Regions from separate parts of the Homo sapiens genome. Here region 1 is linked to region 2. Evidence: fine-mapped expression QTL. Tissue or cell type: tibial artery. Region 2 holds a variant in brackets; the other region holds the start of a gene. All regions are shown on one strand. Distances are between the middles of the regions.

Evidence for each region. PIP is the estimated chance that this variant, and not a neighbour inherited with it, causes the effect.
Region 1: ZCCHC14 starts here. The variant in region 2 is fine-mapped to the expression of ZCCHC14 in tibial artery (GTEx, PIP above 0.99).

Annotation. Positions count from the first base shown.
Region 1 is chr16:87,489,795-87,497,894 of GRCh38, reverse strand. ZCCHC14 (zinc finger CCHC-type containing 14) reads left to right here and starts at 4,871. Exons shown (of 13, transcript NM_015144.3): 1 at 4,871-6,226. The coding sequence starts at 5,657. It overlaps ZCCHC14-DT (ZCCHC14 divergent transcript), which reads right to left and starts at 3,708. Exons shown (of 4, transcript NR_110943.1): 1 at 3,660-3,708. RefSeq lists a silencer at 4,753-4,932.
Region 2 is chr16:87,538,192-87,546,291 of GRCh38, reverse strand. LOC124903748 (a long non-coding RNA gene) reads right to left here and starts at 7,390. Exons shown (of 2, transcript XR_007065170.1): 1 at 6,941-7,390; 2 at 4,419-5,029. RefSeq lists enhancers at 3,463-3,963, 3,964-4,464 and a silencer at 6,072-6,303. The variant C/T (reference allele first, on the strand shown) is at 4,566.

The DNA of each region.
Region 1 (8,100 bases), 48 kb after region 2:
AGAGAGCTGAGATCGCGCCACTGCATTCCAGCCTGGGTGACAGAGGGAGACCCTGTCTCAAAAAAAAAAAAATGCGGATTCCAAGGTCCTACCCCTAGGGACCCTGACTCCATACGTGGGGCCAGGCCTAGGACCCTCCACTTTAAATAAGACCCCGGGCCATTCCCACTGGGGAAATGCTGCATCTAGCCCCACACCAAAGACACCCGGGTAAGCAAGTCTGCCATGGACAAAAACGCCTCGCCGTGCAGAAACCGGGTCTGGACGTTGTTCGGGGCTGATTGCCCATTTATGACTCTAGGTGGACTTTGTCTGCAGTCATGGCTGGAAAAGCTGGCAAGCAACAGACACCTTTGCAAAAATAGCAAATAAACAATATGTCACATTTGTGGTTTCCTCCTGGGAGGGGCAGAGTCTATGGGCAATTGACTTAGGGCAGAATCCAATTCCAACATGAACTAACTGTGTGGCCCGGGCTGAAGCCCTTGACCATTCAGTATCTGCGTGATGGGAATTCAGTATCAGAAACAGCTCCATGGGGTTTTGTCAATTACACGAGGCTGTCAGGCACCGAGGCCTGGAGCCAGGACCCCATCAGGAAATTTAGGGATCCACTGGATTTATGGCCTCCATGCTCAGGGTGTCAGGTCCCAAACCTTCTCAATGACAGGAAAGCAGGAGTCAGGCCAAGGGAAGGAAGCGCACGTTGCAGCTAGAGACCACACACACCTTGGCAGCACCCCAGGGAGAGACAATTCCCTGCCGCGCCGGGCTTCTCTGCGCACTTCCAGCCCCAATCACTTAAGGAGCCCCTGTCCCACTCTGAGTCTTCTTCTGAGGCCTCTGTTGGTGTTGTCCTGCTCCTGGCTTGGCCTCCAGATCCCTCCTCTCGTGGGGTCCTAGGTCTGAAGGAAAAGCAAGATGGTGGCAGTCTGGGGGAAGAGCATGTGCTTGGGGTCCCTGTGGCCCATTTCTGGGCTTGGCCTGGTCACCTGCTGCAGTCGGTATCACTCATTCAGAACTAAGCAGTAACGCCAGGCGGGTCATGTCCTTCTTGTAAAATTGTTTGTTTGGGGAATTTGTGGTGAACTCCAAATCTCTCTCTCTCTCTCACAATTGATACTATTAGAGTCATTTGTGCTTGATTGCAGCTCTGTGGAAGGGACAGCCCCCACTTCTCCCCTCGCCTCTTTGTGGTTATTTGTAGGGCAGTCACAGGAAACCAATAAAATGGCATTTCCCCCTAAACATGAGTGTGGCTCTCAGCGCAACCCAGTTTACAATAAATAGTCTATCCTTGCCCTATAGGACCAGGCCTCAGGAAGGGCTTGGGGGCCTCAGAGGCAAATGACACCCAGCCCTTCAACCCTGCACAACCACAGACCTCACACCCAGTGGTAGCCAATTTGGCTGAACAGCACCCTAGACTGTGGGCTCCCCCTGGTGCTGGGCCCCCTCACAAGGAGGCAGGGCCCACCCTCCTGATCTAGCCTGAGCCCCTGAGTCCTCTCCCAACCTCCTCCCAGCGATCTCAGCCGCTCCAGCAAGGCGTGGGGCTGCTGTCCTTCAGCTGCCTCCCTCTCCAGAGGAGGAGAGGCGGCAGATGTCGAGGCAGAGGTGGAGAAAAGCTCCTGGCACGCTTGCAGCTGGGGTTACCTTGTGCACGGGCAGAGTCAGGGAAGCGGGAGACAGTAGGTGCCCTGTGTGGAAAACCAGAATCTCGGGGCCAGGACCCAGAGAATGCTGGAGGGCCCGGGAGGTCAGCGTCTGCCCTCTCCTTATGAGGGAGGCCCCCTCCTTCAGGCAGCCTGCCTGCTTCAGAGTGGGGAGTCCAGGTTGTCAGTTCTGTAGGGTCGATGGACCTGGTCTCATTTGCCTCTGAGGCCCCCAAGCCCTTCCTGAGGCCTGGTCCTGTAGGGCAGGGATTTCATATTTGTTGTGAACTGGATTGAGCTGAGCCACACCGATGTCTGGGGGGATATGACATTGTTTCGGTTTCCCTGGCTGCCCTACAAGTAACCACAACACGCGTGAGTGAGGGAGGGGTGGGGAGATGGGGGTAGGGGAGGGGTGGGGGGGGGGTGGGAGATGGGGATGGGGGAGGGGTGGGAGATGGGGGTGGGAGAGGGTCGGGGGGTGGGGGAGGGTGGGGGTTGGGGGTTGAAAACAATAGCAACTTACCCTCTCACAGTTCTGGAGGCCAGGAGTCCAAAGTCAAGGTGTGGGCATGGCTCTGTTCCCTCTGGAGGCTCTAGGGGAGGGTCCTCCCTGTCTCTTGCAGCCTCTGGTAGGCCCAGGCACTCCTTGGCTCCAATCTCTGCCATTCTTGCACATAGTCTCCTTTCCCCCGAAGTCTCTATGTGTTCTTTTCTGTATCTTGTAAGGACAGTCTCATTGCATGTAGGGCTCACCTTAATTCAGTGTGATTTTATCTTGACTCTTACCTTAATTATATCTGCAAAGACTCTTTTCCCAAATAAGGTCACATTCTGAGATTTGGGGTAGAGATAAACTTTGGGGGGACATGATTCAACCTACTAAGCCATTAAATCACAAAGAGCACGCAAGAAGGACCAAAAAGGCAGCGGGAAGTGGGGAGGACCTTGATCCAAGGACTTCCACAGCTCAGGCCTCCCTTGTTCCAGCCAGCAAGGGCTTTCCATGAGCACCTTTGACTTCCACTGCTAGCCAGGATGACGGGTTCCTGGCTGTCTTCTACAGATGAGGAAACTGAGGCTCAGAGGCCTCTGAATGCATAGCCAAGTTCACACAGTCAGCCACAGCTGGGACTGGAGCTCACTTGGTACCAAAGCCTGGGGGTTTCACAGCCAGCTCGGCTGGATTGAAGAAGCCCCACCCCCACCCCCAGCACTAATGAGGTTCCAAGATCTTTCTCCAAGGAGCTTGCTTTATCAATAAGAAATGAATCTTTTGTTTTGTTTTGTTTTTGAGACAGAGTCTTACGCTGTCACCCAGGCTGGAGTGCAGTGGCGGGATCCCCATTCACCGCAACCTCCCTTTCCCGGGCTCGGGCAATCCTTCCACTGCAGTCTCCCAAGTACCTGGGACTACAGGCACATGCCACCACATCTGGCTAATTTTTGTAGTTTTTGTAGAGATGGGATTTCGCCATGTTGCCCAGGCTGGTCTCGAACTCCTGGGCTCAAGGGATCTACCCTCGGCCTCCCAAAGTACTGGGATTACAGATGTGAGCCTCTGAGCCCAGCCAAACTGTCTTGATGTTCACGTTCTTTCACTACCTTAGATTATGAATTTTGGAATGTGGCCAGTTCCCTGGAATCACATTAAGAAGTGAGGTCCAGGACAACGACGATTAATTTAATTATTAATAGAAATCAGCCTAGACCTGGGAAATAAGATGAGGAGACCCAACTGTCCCCAGCCTTGCCCTTGTGCCCATGTGGGAGGCCATCCTGACTCCATTTAGATTTTTGCTTCTTCCTACACTGACAAAGAACACTGGGGCAGCTCCAGGGAAATGTGCCCAAGGTGTGGAGGGGGCTGGGGGAGTGGAGAGCAATTTTTTTTGTTCCCAACCATGCCTTTCTGCAATCTCTGTTCATCCTCGAAGACCTAAGACTGGAGAATGTGGGGTTTGTTTGTTTTGGAGCGACTGGGGCGGGGAGGGGGGGTCTCACCATGTTGCCCAGGTTGGTCTTAAACTCTTGGCCTCAAGCGATCCTCCTGCCTCGGTCTACCCAGTAGCTGGAACCACAGGCGTGCCAGATTCGGCTGAAGAGTTTTGTTAGGAAGTTTTCAGCACCTTGGACCATATCCTGAAAAAGTTCATTCATTGATTTAACCAATCTCTAGTGTGCACTGCCCAGAACCAGAGTGTAAGCTCCACAGGGTAGGGAGGGCGCCAGCTTTGCTCTCAGCTGCCCCCGGGCGCTTGGGACCTGGAACCCATGAATGAACAGACCCCGTTCTAGATCAACAGACATTCAAAGCAGCGCTCTAGGGGAAGGGCAGGGGAGGAATGAGCGTCCAGCCCCCGCGGCTCTACTTCTATGCCTGTGTGTAAGTGGTGGGATTTAAAGGTGGTTGGGTGCACCGGCCCTTCCCCCACCTGCAATCCGGTGCCAATGCAAGTGCCAGGGGAGGGTGGCGTTTCTGTTTACTTCCAGCCAGGTCAGCTCCCTTGCCCCCTCCCCTGTGTTTGCATTTTCTGCGTTTGGCGAGCTGGTGAAGTAGCCGCGGAAAGAAGGCGGATTTAAAGGCTCCATTTGGACGAGGCTTTTGGAGAAAGCTTGCACCTCCCATCACACCCCCAGGGCAAGTCAGCCGCCTCAAAAGTGCCGGTGCCGGCCCTCTGTGAGCTCAACACCTTCGCACAAACCTCGGGGGCGGTTATTATTACCCTCTTTTTCCCGGGGAGGCGCCTGGGGCTCAGAGAGGCCAAGTGACTCGCCCAAGGTCACACAGCTTTGCAGTGGCCGACCCGGGATTGGAACCCGGGGCTCCGGACCCCGCGGCGGCCGTTTCTCGAAGATACCCACTACCTCCCTCTTACACCGCTCAAAAATAAAGCAGGAAGGCCGAACGCCCCGTTTTCGCCGAAAAACAATGCTCCACGCAAATTTGCGGGAACAAAAGCAACCAGAAATCCAGCCCGGGTTTTCCGCCTCTCCGATTCCGCGGACCAATCGCGTCTTGACGGCCGCCGAGGGACGGGAGGCGGTGGCCCCAACATGATCGACAGCCCCCAGGGAGGCGTGGCCGCGGAACGGGCGAATGGGATTGGGGACCCGGCACAATCACGGGCCGAGAACGGGCCGCCTGAGCCAATCAGTGGGGGGGGGACGGGCCCGGCAGGCCCGGGCTGTCGCGAGAGGCGGCCACCCCGCCCACTTCTGCTGATCCCGGCCGCCCGTCAGCCGCGAGCGCGACGATCCCTCCGCTCCTCGGCCGGCGCCTCCTCCGCCGTCGCCGTCGCCGTCGCCGTCGCCGTCGCCGCCGCCGCCGCGCTCGGGCCCGGATCCGTCCGCCGCGCGGGAGCAGCAAGGCCGGCAAGTCCCGGCCGGATCCCTCCGCGCCTCCCGCCGCGCGTCCCTCCCCCTCCAGCGTCCGTTTCGCGGCCGCGGCCCCCAGCGCTCCCCAGGCGGCGACGCCGCGCCCGCGGCCCGGGGTAACGGCCGGCCTGGGCGGAGGCGCGGGCGGCGGCGACGGCATGGCCGGGGCGGCTCCGTCGGGGGGCGGCCCGCAGTGACAGACCCTGCGGCGCGGGGGGAGATGGGGGCGGCCGCCTCCCGGGCGACGACGACGACGACGACGAGGAGCAGCCGCCGCCGCCGCCGCGCACCGGCCGCCGCTGGGCACGGGCGCGGGGAAGGCGCCTCCCCGTGAGCGGGGGGCCCGAGGCCGCTCGCCGCCCCCGGCCGCCCCGGCCGCCCCGGGCCCCCCCGGCGCCCCGCGCGCGCCCGCCCGCCGGCCCCTGACGGGAGCCTTGCCCGGCCCCGGTCCCCGCCCCCGCCCCGGCGCCCGCCCGGCCCGCGGCGCCCGCGCGCCCTCGCCCGGACCCGGCCCCGGCCCGCGCGTCCCCGGTCCCGGCGCGCCCCGGCCGCGGCCCCCGGCGCCCCCCGGCCGCCCCCGCGCGGTCCCCGGCCCCGGGTCGCGGCGCGGCGCGGGCGGCAGCATGGTGGAGAAGCGCTGCCCGCTGCAGAGGGACGGCGTGTACCGCTGGTTCTCGGAGCTGCCGTCGCCGCAGCGCGTGGAGTTCCTGTGCGGCCTGCTGGACCTGTGCATCCCGCTCGAGCTTCGCTTCCTCGGCTCGTGCCTGGAGGACCTGGCCCGCAAGGACTACCACTCGCTGCGCGACTCGGAGATCAAGGCCAACAACCCGGCCGACCTGGGCAGCCTCACCAACCTGACGGACGAGGTGGTGCGCAGCAAGCTGCTGGTGTCGCTGGCGCTGCTGGGCTCGGAGCAGCGCGAGGCGGCGGGCGTGCTCTACCGCACGCTCACGCACATCGACTCCATCATCCACAACTACGGGCTGCAGCTTAACGAGGGCCGCACGGGCGATGAGTTCCTGCTGCTGTTCACCATGGCCTCCAACCACCCGGCCTTCAGCTTCCACCAGAAGCAGGTGCTGCGCCAGGAGCTCACGCAGATCCAGAGCAGCCTGAACGGCGGCGGGGGCCACGGCGGCAAGGGCGCGCCCGGGCCGGGCGGCGCGCTGCCCACTTGCCCAGCCTGCCACAAGGTGCGTGCCCGCCCCGAGCTCTGCCCTGTACCCCAAGTCTGCATCCCCAACTCTGCACTCCAAGCCTCCAGCCTGCACCGCGACCCCCCGACCCACGCCTCCAGCCTGCACTGAGAGCTCCCACCCAGGTCTCCAACCTGCACCACGAGCCCCCAGCCCGTATCCCAAGCCCCATCCTAAGCCTCTATGTCGCACCCCAAATGTGTGCCCCACCTCTCCAAGCCTCCACCGTACATCCCAAGCCTCCGCCGTACATCCCAAGCCTCCGCCGTACATCCCAAGCCCCCATCCTAAGCCCGCACTCCTCACCCTAAGTCTGCACTTTAAGCCCCAAGACCGCACCGCGGCCCTGAGCCCACACCCTCAGTCCCCTCTGCGTGCCCCAAAGCCTCCACACCTCCGCCTCGCGCCCCTTGGGCAGGAGCGGCTGCAGGGGCCCTGGGTCCGAGGATCCGCGGGAGCGGTGCGGGAGACGTCCGCGGTCAGAGCTCACAGTCCCAGGTGCCCTCCTTTCACTTAGCCGGCTGCAAACGCGATAAGGCCTTTGTCCCCTTAATGGGGCCCTTGGGTGACAGATAACACACATTGCGGCGCCTTGGTTTCCCCAAATCTGGTATTTATTACCAGAAAAGGAAGGAGCCGTGGCCACGCCAGAAGCCGCCGGTGAGGTGAACATTGCAAGGCGCTGGGGCTTCCCCGTCTGAGCCGCTCCCTCCACACAGGTGGAGGCCCTGCTTGGGGCCTGTGTCGCTGGGGGCCTGGGCGCGGGACATGGCTGTCCGTGTGAGCTCATTTATGGACACGTGCATGCTGTATGATGTACGCGTGTGTCGCATGTGGGCATGTATATGTGCACACGTGTGTATGAATGTGCACATGCTTGTGAACGTTGTGTGTGATCGTTTTTAAGAGCCGGGCTACCTGTAACAGACAGAAAAAGACTCCCAGAGCCTTAAATGCCCGTGAAACCTATTTATTGGCGACCCTTAGAAACAAAACCCAGGCTGACTTTGAGTGGGAGGGCACCGATGCCTTAAGGAATGTTAGGTTAGGTTAAAGATCTCCGGTCTCCAAATTGAACCGGAAGGGCGTCCTGGCCATCCACTTAGCGATGTGAACTTTTGTCTAAGTGTTTCAGAACTGAAAACGCAAAGTGTCTGGGGCTCCAGCTATTTTGAACAGCCCCCTGCAATCCAGTGCCAAAATTTTGCTGCCGGAAGAGATTACTTTGACCTGGTGTGATGTGTATTTAGATTACAAACTGATTATTTTTTGGAAGGGAATAGGTTGCAGTCGGGACCAAGTCTTGCTCAGTGTCTCTTTGCAGTGTCTTTAAGCTCTTTGAAGTTAAAACTTTGATAAGACTTTGCTTTTATGAGTGGCTGAGAACACCGTCTGGTTTGCTAGGTTTTTTATGTGTGTGTTTTTAAAGCTGTCTTTCAATCGTAGATTGTGGCTTTTCTTTTTTAATGTCTTCCTGTAAGAAGTGGTTGTAGTACATACATCGGTTTTTTTAAATTGATTTTTGTGTGTGTGACATTTACCTCCAAGACTATAGTTTTCTTTTTAAGTTCGGCTCCCACCCTGTATTTCAGGCTGTGTGCTGTGCAGAGGGTCCTAGGAAATGTAGTTGTTTATAGTAATCCATGTAAGCCTTGACATGCCAGCAAATTGTCACCTATTCATGGAATCTCAGTCATTTATGGTCAGTTTCATGTGCTGTTACTCCTTTGTGTAGATTCCACCCACTAATAATTTCTATGGCTGTTGCTACAGTAACGTCATCTCTTTAAGGGGATTCTTAATGTGTGAGCACGGGTGCCTCACTTTATGCAGACAGTGGTGATTATTATTTTGATTGGGCAGTGAGCTAA
Region 2 (8,100 bases):
ACGGGGCCACAGAGCAGGGGACAAAGGTAGCTCCCAGGGGACAGTCAGTCATGAAAACAGGCCCTCAGCCCTACAACCACAGGAAATACATTCTGCCAACAGCCTGGATGAACGCAAAGCAGACTCTGCCCCAGTTGGGCCTGCAGATGAGAACGCAGCTCAGCAAACACCTCAAATACAGCTTTGGGAGACCCTGAGCACAGACCAGCTAAGCTGTGCCTGGATGCCTGACCCACAGAAATGACAAGATCATAAATGTGTGTGTTTTGTGTTTTGGTTTGGTTTTTTGAGACAGGGTCTTGCCCTGTCAGCCAGGCTGGAGTGCAATGGTGCAATCGTATGTCATTGCAGTCTTGACTTCCTGATCTCAAGCAATCCTCCCACCTCAGACTTCCAAATATCTGGGACCACGACCACAGGCACGCACCACCACACCCAGCTAATTATTTTTTTCTTGTAGAGACGAGAGGTCTTCCTATGTTGTGTGATTTCAAACTCCTTGGCTCAAGCCGTCCTCCTGCCTCAGCCTCCCAAAGTGCTAGGATTATAGGTGTGAGCCACCCCACCTGGCCGTGTGTTGTTTTAAGTAGTTAAATTTGTAACACAATGCAGCATAGGAAACTAATACACATAGGATCACTCTGTGTGCTCCCAAGCCAAGAGAAAACATCCCGTTCTTCCTACCAACAGCAGACACTCTGCTCCTAATCTCTCCTTTGCTCATGCACTGATTTGCCGAGCACCAAGGCTGTGCCTGTCTCATCTAGGTGCCAGGTGTTATGGTCTTCCCATTGATCTCATGGTGAGACCACCCCTGACTTCTAAACAGGCTTATGGCTGCACCCCACAGCCTCCCTCGAAGGTAGATATGGCCACATGATGAGGATGAGGATGAAAAGTGATGTGTGTACCTTCTGAGCCTCTCCCTGCACAGACTGGGGAGTCTCCCCCTCCCCTGCCCCTTCCTGCTGGCTGGAGTGCGGCCCACTCTCAGCTCTCTCTGGGAATTACCCTTAGCAGAAGAGAGCTGGCTTGCACAGAGGCACACCTACACTGGGGGGCTATAGAGGCCAAGCCCCTCACTCCCACTTGGGACAACTGTGATGGCCCGTGCCAGCCTCAGAGACCCGGCAGGAGCATCTCAGCCACCTCCTCCCTCTGTTGGTCCTGCCTCTCCCTGAGAGCATGCCCAGGTCCTTCCTGTATGCAAATCTCCATCGCAGGTCTGCTTCCCGGGACCCTGCCCTGCAGCATGTGGACAAGGACCATCCTGGGACCCTGCCCTGCAGCACGTGGACAAGGACCACACACAAGGGGAATTGTGGAATGACAAATGAGAAGGTGCCCGGGCCACACCAGCTCGACCTTGGTGTGAGAGACTAAGACAGAAATCACCTTCCACCTCTGGCAGTCTCTGCCACTCTGATTGTCTTTGTTAGAGCACCCAAACCAATACTCTCATTAATATCCCAGGTTAATGATGCATGGGTGTTCAGCGTGGATGGAGTCCCGACCATCCTGGGGCACTTATAAAAATCCCTCCACACAGAAAACTGTGCCTTTCCAGGCTGAGTCCACTCGGATAGGGAGTGCTTCCTTAGTCTGTTTTCTGTTGTTGATAACACAATACCTGAAACTGGGCAATTTATAAAGAAAGGGAATTAATTTCTTACAGTTATGGAGGCCCCAAGTGGCACAGGGCATCCCATAGTGTGGAGGCTGACTGCTCACTCAGGTCTTTCTTCTTCTTCTTATGAAGCCACCAGTCCCACTCCCGTGATAACTGACCCACTCCTGGGATAACCATTAACCCATTAACCCGTTCATCCGTGAGCCCACCAATGTTAACCCGTTCATCTGTGAGTCCACCAATGGATTCATCTACTGATGATGGCAGAGCCCTCTCGACTCAATCACTTCCTCAAGGCCTCACCTCTCAATGCTGCCACTGTAGGGATTCGATTTCAGCATGGGCTTCGGAGAGGACAAACATTCAAACCCTAGCACGTCCCTTTCTCTAATTTGCAGAAAGACACCTCATGCCCTGGCCAAGCCCCCACTTCATGGGCTCGAAGACCCACAAGGGAGAAGGCAGTGAGGGCCCCTTCCTGCCCACAGGAAGCTCGGCACAGACTTGGGAACGCAAATGAGGTTGGTCACCGCATGAACGGGTGGCCCACAAAGAGTAGGAAATCCTTATAAGGAACTTCCTACACAGCCGCGTCTTGGCTGAGAAACATGCGGCTCACACAGACCCATGCGGTGCCTGCCTGAGTGGAAGGTTCCATTTTTAGGATGATTTTCGGACCACACGCGGCAGCCCTACGTGGGAAGCGGCAGAAGGGGGCTCCAGAGGCCGTCAGGAGGCCTCAGATCGTGGAATCTGTGCCAGCACCTTCAAGGGCTCTGCTTATGGGAAAGACCTGAAACTTCGTGGATCAAACGTTGGAAACACATTACAAAGTTTATTACACCAATACACATATTTTGTGCTGAATGCACAAACAGAGAAATAAAACTTGTTGATGAGCAGAGTGCTCTCTGCAGTGCTTCTCAGCGCACCTCAAGGTCAGGAGGTGCAGTGAGGTATGTCGTGTCATTTCTGACGAAGCAGCAGCAGGGCCGCGAGCACGCAGGGGCCACCAGCTGCCTCCAGCTGCAGGGGCCCTCGGCCCTCTCCTGCCCAGTGCTACACCCCTGGAGGAAACGCGCTGGGGTCCACGCACCTGGGACTTCTTGGTCTAGCCAGGGCCTGGTTCATGGAAGCGCTGAGTAAATGGGTGATAATTTGCTCATGGATTGTCCCTAAGCCAGGGCAGCTCCCTATCTGAACCAGTTTTAACAGAATCCATTGGAAATGTGTGTTGAATAACCTCAGGGCCCCTGCCGGATCCCTGGATCCCTTTTTACCATTTTTGTGCTCTCCAAAGCTTTGGAGTGTTTATACCTCCAACAGCCAGCACCAGCAGCTGCTTAAAGCAGTGGTTCCCAAACTTCTTGGCACCAGGGACTGGTTTCATGGAAGACAATTTTTCCATGGACCAGGCAGGGTGAATGGTTTCAGGACGATTCAACTTATTACACTTACCGTTCACTTTATTTCTATTATTATTACATTGTAATATCTAATGAAATAATTATACAACTCACTATAACGTAGAATCAGTGGGAGCCCTGAGCTTGCTTTCCTGCAACTGGACAATCCCATCTAGGGGTGATGGGAGACAGTGACAGATCATCTGACACGAGTTTCTCATAAGGAGTGCACAACCTGGATTCCTCGAATGACAGTTCACAATAGGGTTCGCGTTCCTAGGAGAATCTAATGCTGCAGCTGATCTGACAGGAGGGGGAGCTCAGGCCGTAATACCAGCGATGGGGAGCAGCTGTAAATACAGAGGAAGCTTCACTCACTCACCTGCTACTCATCTCCTGCTGTGCAACCGAGTTCCTAACAGGCCATGAACCAGTACCAGCCATATTTCAAAGGCTCAAAAGCCACAAGGGACTAGTGGTCACCATATCGGACAATGCAGATCTAGAACATTCCATCAGTGCAGGAAGCTTTATTGGGCAACTCTGGTCTGGAGTGTAAGCTTCATACGGGAAGGGATGCGTGTCCGTGCTGGTCACTGCCGTGTGACAGATCATCGTGTATTAGAATCTCATAAGGAGTGTGCAACCTAGATCCCTTGCATATGCAGCTCACGATACGGTCCACGCTTCTATGAGAATCTAATGCTGCGGCTGATCTGACAGGAGGCGGATCTCAGGTGTTAACGTGAGCCGTGGGCAGCAGCTGTAAATACAGGTGAAGCTTTGCTCACTCACCTGCTGCTCACCTTCTGCCGTGGCCCGGGGGTTGGAGACCTCTGGTTTAGAGGGTGGCCTGTGGGCTCTCTGAAGCCGCTTCACCCTCATGCACGGAAATGCCTGGGAATTTATACCTCCCTAGACCACGCTTAACCAAAGACAGGTGGGTTCTGGGTGGGTGTATGAAGACCTCAGCTCCCTGGTCTCAGGCTGGGACATCCCTGGGTGTGATTGACCCTCCACAGTTCCCCTGTGGGGTCGGGCATGCCCCGCCCACCCCAGTTCCTTCAGGCTGCAGAAGGACTGTGCCCACATAGCACCCTGCCCAGCTTCCTTCCTTTTCCAGTCCAGCTTCCCACCCCCAACCTGTGTCCCCAGGGAGTACTCCCTGAATAGTCGCTGCAAACACATCCTCATCCTAGGGGCTGCGTCTGGGCAACTGCTCCTAGGGAAAAGGTCTGGTTACGCAAGCAGATTCCTTGGCACACCGACCCACAGGAGGGAACCCATGCTGTGCCGCCGTAAAAGAAAAAAAAATAAAGAAGCGGCGAATTTGGTGACAGCTTTGGAAAATAGTATTTAGTGAGAAAAGCAAGGTGCGGAAGCCTGGGCTGTGGTATCTTTATTTTCTGAGCGGGGAAAGATAAAAGTGGACCGTATCTTGTATTTGCTGCCTCCCTAAAGAAAACAAGCCGGAAATACAAGAAGCCAATGAAAGCGGACACATAGGGCGCCAGAGCGGGGTAAGGGTT[C/T]CCAGGCTCTCTGTATGTTTGGATTATTGAGTCATGTGGATTTGCACAGATCCCAAAACCAAAACACAGATCCCTAGGCCCCGCCGTCTGGGAGTCTGACGCAGCTGCTCTGCGGTGAGGAGACAGAGGCTGTGTTCCCGAGAGGTTCCAAGGGGGACAGTTGCACCGCCAGTCTTGCGGACGTTGTTCTAGATGATTTCTTTGAGTGGTCTGAAACAAAGCCGAACCACTCACCAGCAGCGCTGTCTTCCTGGATGCAGCCAGCCCTGCTGGAAACGGGTGGGAAGGCTGTCTTCTTCACTCCCGGGGGCCTCTGAAGGTGGGCGTGAGTCAGGGGCTCCTGGGAGAAATCGACCGCCCTTGCCGGCCTCCACGGGCCCTGGAAAGCCTGAGAGCCTGGCGCTCCTGCCACATCCCCATTGCCATGGCAACGGCAGACACAATGGTTTCTGTGGAGTTCGGATCTATAAATAATTTCTAGATTAGTCTTGGCGAGGTGGATGGGGTGGGCACCGAGGGGAGGTTCCTGGTGGCCGGCGGGACGGGCCACTGTCCACAGGCCATGCCAGGCCTGGGGCAGCGAGGTCACAGCCTCCTGGGTCAGATGCTGTGCCCTGGCCAGTCGGCAGGAGTGGCCTCGGCAGGCTCCGCAGCAGTTTCTGCCCCAGAGACCATGCGTGGGACAGTTCCATCTCATCTGTGAGTCCCGGACATGTGTGGACCCAGGTTGGCTGCACAGGACCCAGGGTGGCTGGGTAGAGGGCTGTAAAAAAATCCCTGCTGCTGATCTGGGGACTGAGGGAGGCTCAGGGGTGGGAGTTGATCACCACCGTTTCTAGGCACTCACGAGGGCCCTGTTCAGTGTCTCGGCGTTGCTGGGTAGACCCTGGTGGGGTGACAACAGGATCTGAGTGTTTGGACTCCATTCTCTCTGCTTCCTCTGTCCACGTTTTAGGGATGCCCTATTCAATGAGCCCTCTCTCTCTCTTCCTTTTTTTTTTTTTCTTTTTCTAGCAGTGTTTCCAGGGAAGGGCTCATATTCCCCACACTAGGGGCTGAGAGGGTGGATGCTTCTGGGTAAATCATTTGAAAATCAAGCAGATCCAACACCTTTGCTGTCTCTGATTAGAGTGAGCTCGCTGGGAGGGGCCCCCAAAGGGCCCCTGAATGGCTACGTGCTGCATGGCGTTAGGAGTGAGGGGCATGACCCTGACACCGGGAGGGCAGGCGTGTGAGCAAGTGCAGCCTACGGGGAGGCAATTTAACCACAGCCCCGGCACTGACAACGGCAAATCCTCTTGCGCAGCAGTTCTCCTCCGAGGATTCTTCCTGAGTGAGGCACTGGCATAGGGGCACAAAGGCATATATGTGCCAAAGGCATGACCCACGCCATGCGTTGATTACAGCAGAGACTGAGAGCAGCCTCATGCCTGTTGGTGGAGAGGAGTGGAGAAGGACAGCCTACTCCCCATGCACTGAGAGCTCTTGTGCAGTCAGCAAAAAGCGTGGTGGCTCCATCCATGTGGACACAGAACAGCTTTCAAGAGAAATAAGAAGGGCTGGAAGTGGCAGCTCACGCCTGTAATTCCAGCACTTTGGGAGGCTGAGGCGGGCAGATCACCTGAGGTCAGGAGTTAGAGACAAGCCCAGCCAACGTGACAAAACCCTGTCTCTACTAAAAATACAAAAATTAGCTGGGTGTGGTGATGGGCACCTGTAATCCCAGCTACTTGGGTGGCTGAGACACGAGAATTGCTTGAACCCGGGAGGTGGAGGTTTGCAGTGAGCCGAGCTTGTGCCACTGCACTCCAGCCTGGAAGGCAGAACAAGACTCTGTCTCAAAAACAAAAAAAAAAAAAAGAGACAGAGAGAGAAATAAGAAGAACCAGAGGCACCCAGCGCATGGGCTGCTACTGTCTGTGTAGGAGGCCGAGTAATGTATCACACATGCACACCTAAGTGTGCATACACATATGTGTGCACGAGCACATATGCACACACATAGCTAGAAAAAGGGGCTCTGGGACCCTGAAGATTTGGGGTGGAAGGAAGCTTACTTTTCAGGACATCCTTTCCTGTACTGTTTGGTTGTGGTTGTTTAACCATTTGTGTATGTTAATTTTTCAATTAAAAATAGTTGAGCAAGGTGTGGTAGCATGCACCTGTCATCCTAGCTACTCAAGAAGCTGAGGTGGGAGGACTGCTTGAGCCCAGGGGCTTGGGTCTAGCCTGGGCAACATAGCCAGACCCCATCTCCAAAAAGAGTTTTAAAAATAGGTGAGTGGAAGTTTGGAGAAGAAGGAAGGAAGAGGAAAGGAGGCAGGAGGAAGAGAGAGAAAGGTGTACCCCGCACCGCGGAGGCAGCAGGTCCTCACCTGAATCTGTCTCCCCGTTTCCCAGCTGCGTGGCTGTGGACAAGTCACTCGGCCTCCCTGCGACACCACTTTCCTGCCTGTGAAATGGACTCACGGATAAACCAATCTCACCAAGTTGTTGCCAGGATCAAATAAGTCAAAAATGAGAAAGGATTTAGGAAACTGCAACGGGCATTTTCCCTTGAAAATGGCCCCTGGCTCTTGCACACGCACGTGTGCCAAACAGCTCAGATAATGATTTTCATTTATTCTAATCCTCAGGCTGCCTGAGCTGGGCTTCAGGGGTACGCTGTGGGAAGATCTGAGCACACAGGCCCCGCCGGGGTTCAGATCTGGAGACCCAGCAAGGGCTAATAAAACACAAACTAAATATTCCTCTGGCCTCCCCCACGGAGTGTTTTTCTCTGATTCCGGATCGGCCCTTGGGCTGTTAGAAAACATCTTCTGGGGACAAAGGGCAAGCGGTGAATTTGTGTCCCCTACAGAGAGGAGGGCTGGAGTTGTGGTTCTCTAAGAAGCCACGTGAACCAGAAGCAGCTCTCAGGGGCGGCGGCGTCTGCCCTCAGCCACGCTGGAGTCCACCCCAACTGGCAAGTGGAGAAAAGGAAGGAAAAAATGAGTCAAAAGGAATGGGAAACTGTGTTGCTCACATTTATGAAATGAATGTAGGTCTCCAACATATGCTCTGGCCTGGAGCATTGCTGTCTCTGCGTTAGTAGCTGGGCATGGCTGTGTTGACAGTGGCGGAGGAGAACTCACAGCAGTGGTGAACGTCAAATGTCAAATGTCATTAGAAACCAAGAAGGGGGCAGATTTAAAAAGAAAAAAAGCAGGGAATGCATTCCACCTTTAAACAGAAGGCTTGGGCAGGGTATGAAGCTCGAATCTCATACTTCAAAATGTTTTTGCATCTTGAGGAAACCGTACAGGAACTTGACTGTGAGGAGCTATAGGGCTGCCTGGTCATTTGGATGTGGCCATGTTCACATAAACACTCAGTGCTCGTCAGCTGGAGTTTTGGATTCAGGGAGATGGAAACAATTTAGACTTGGGGGTGTTTGAGGTCAGCGGTTATAAGTGAGTCTCAGGGTTTTTCCCACAGTTGATGAAAACAGTTTCTTTGACATCAAAAATACATATCTATTTTGAAACAGGGTCTT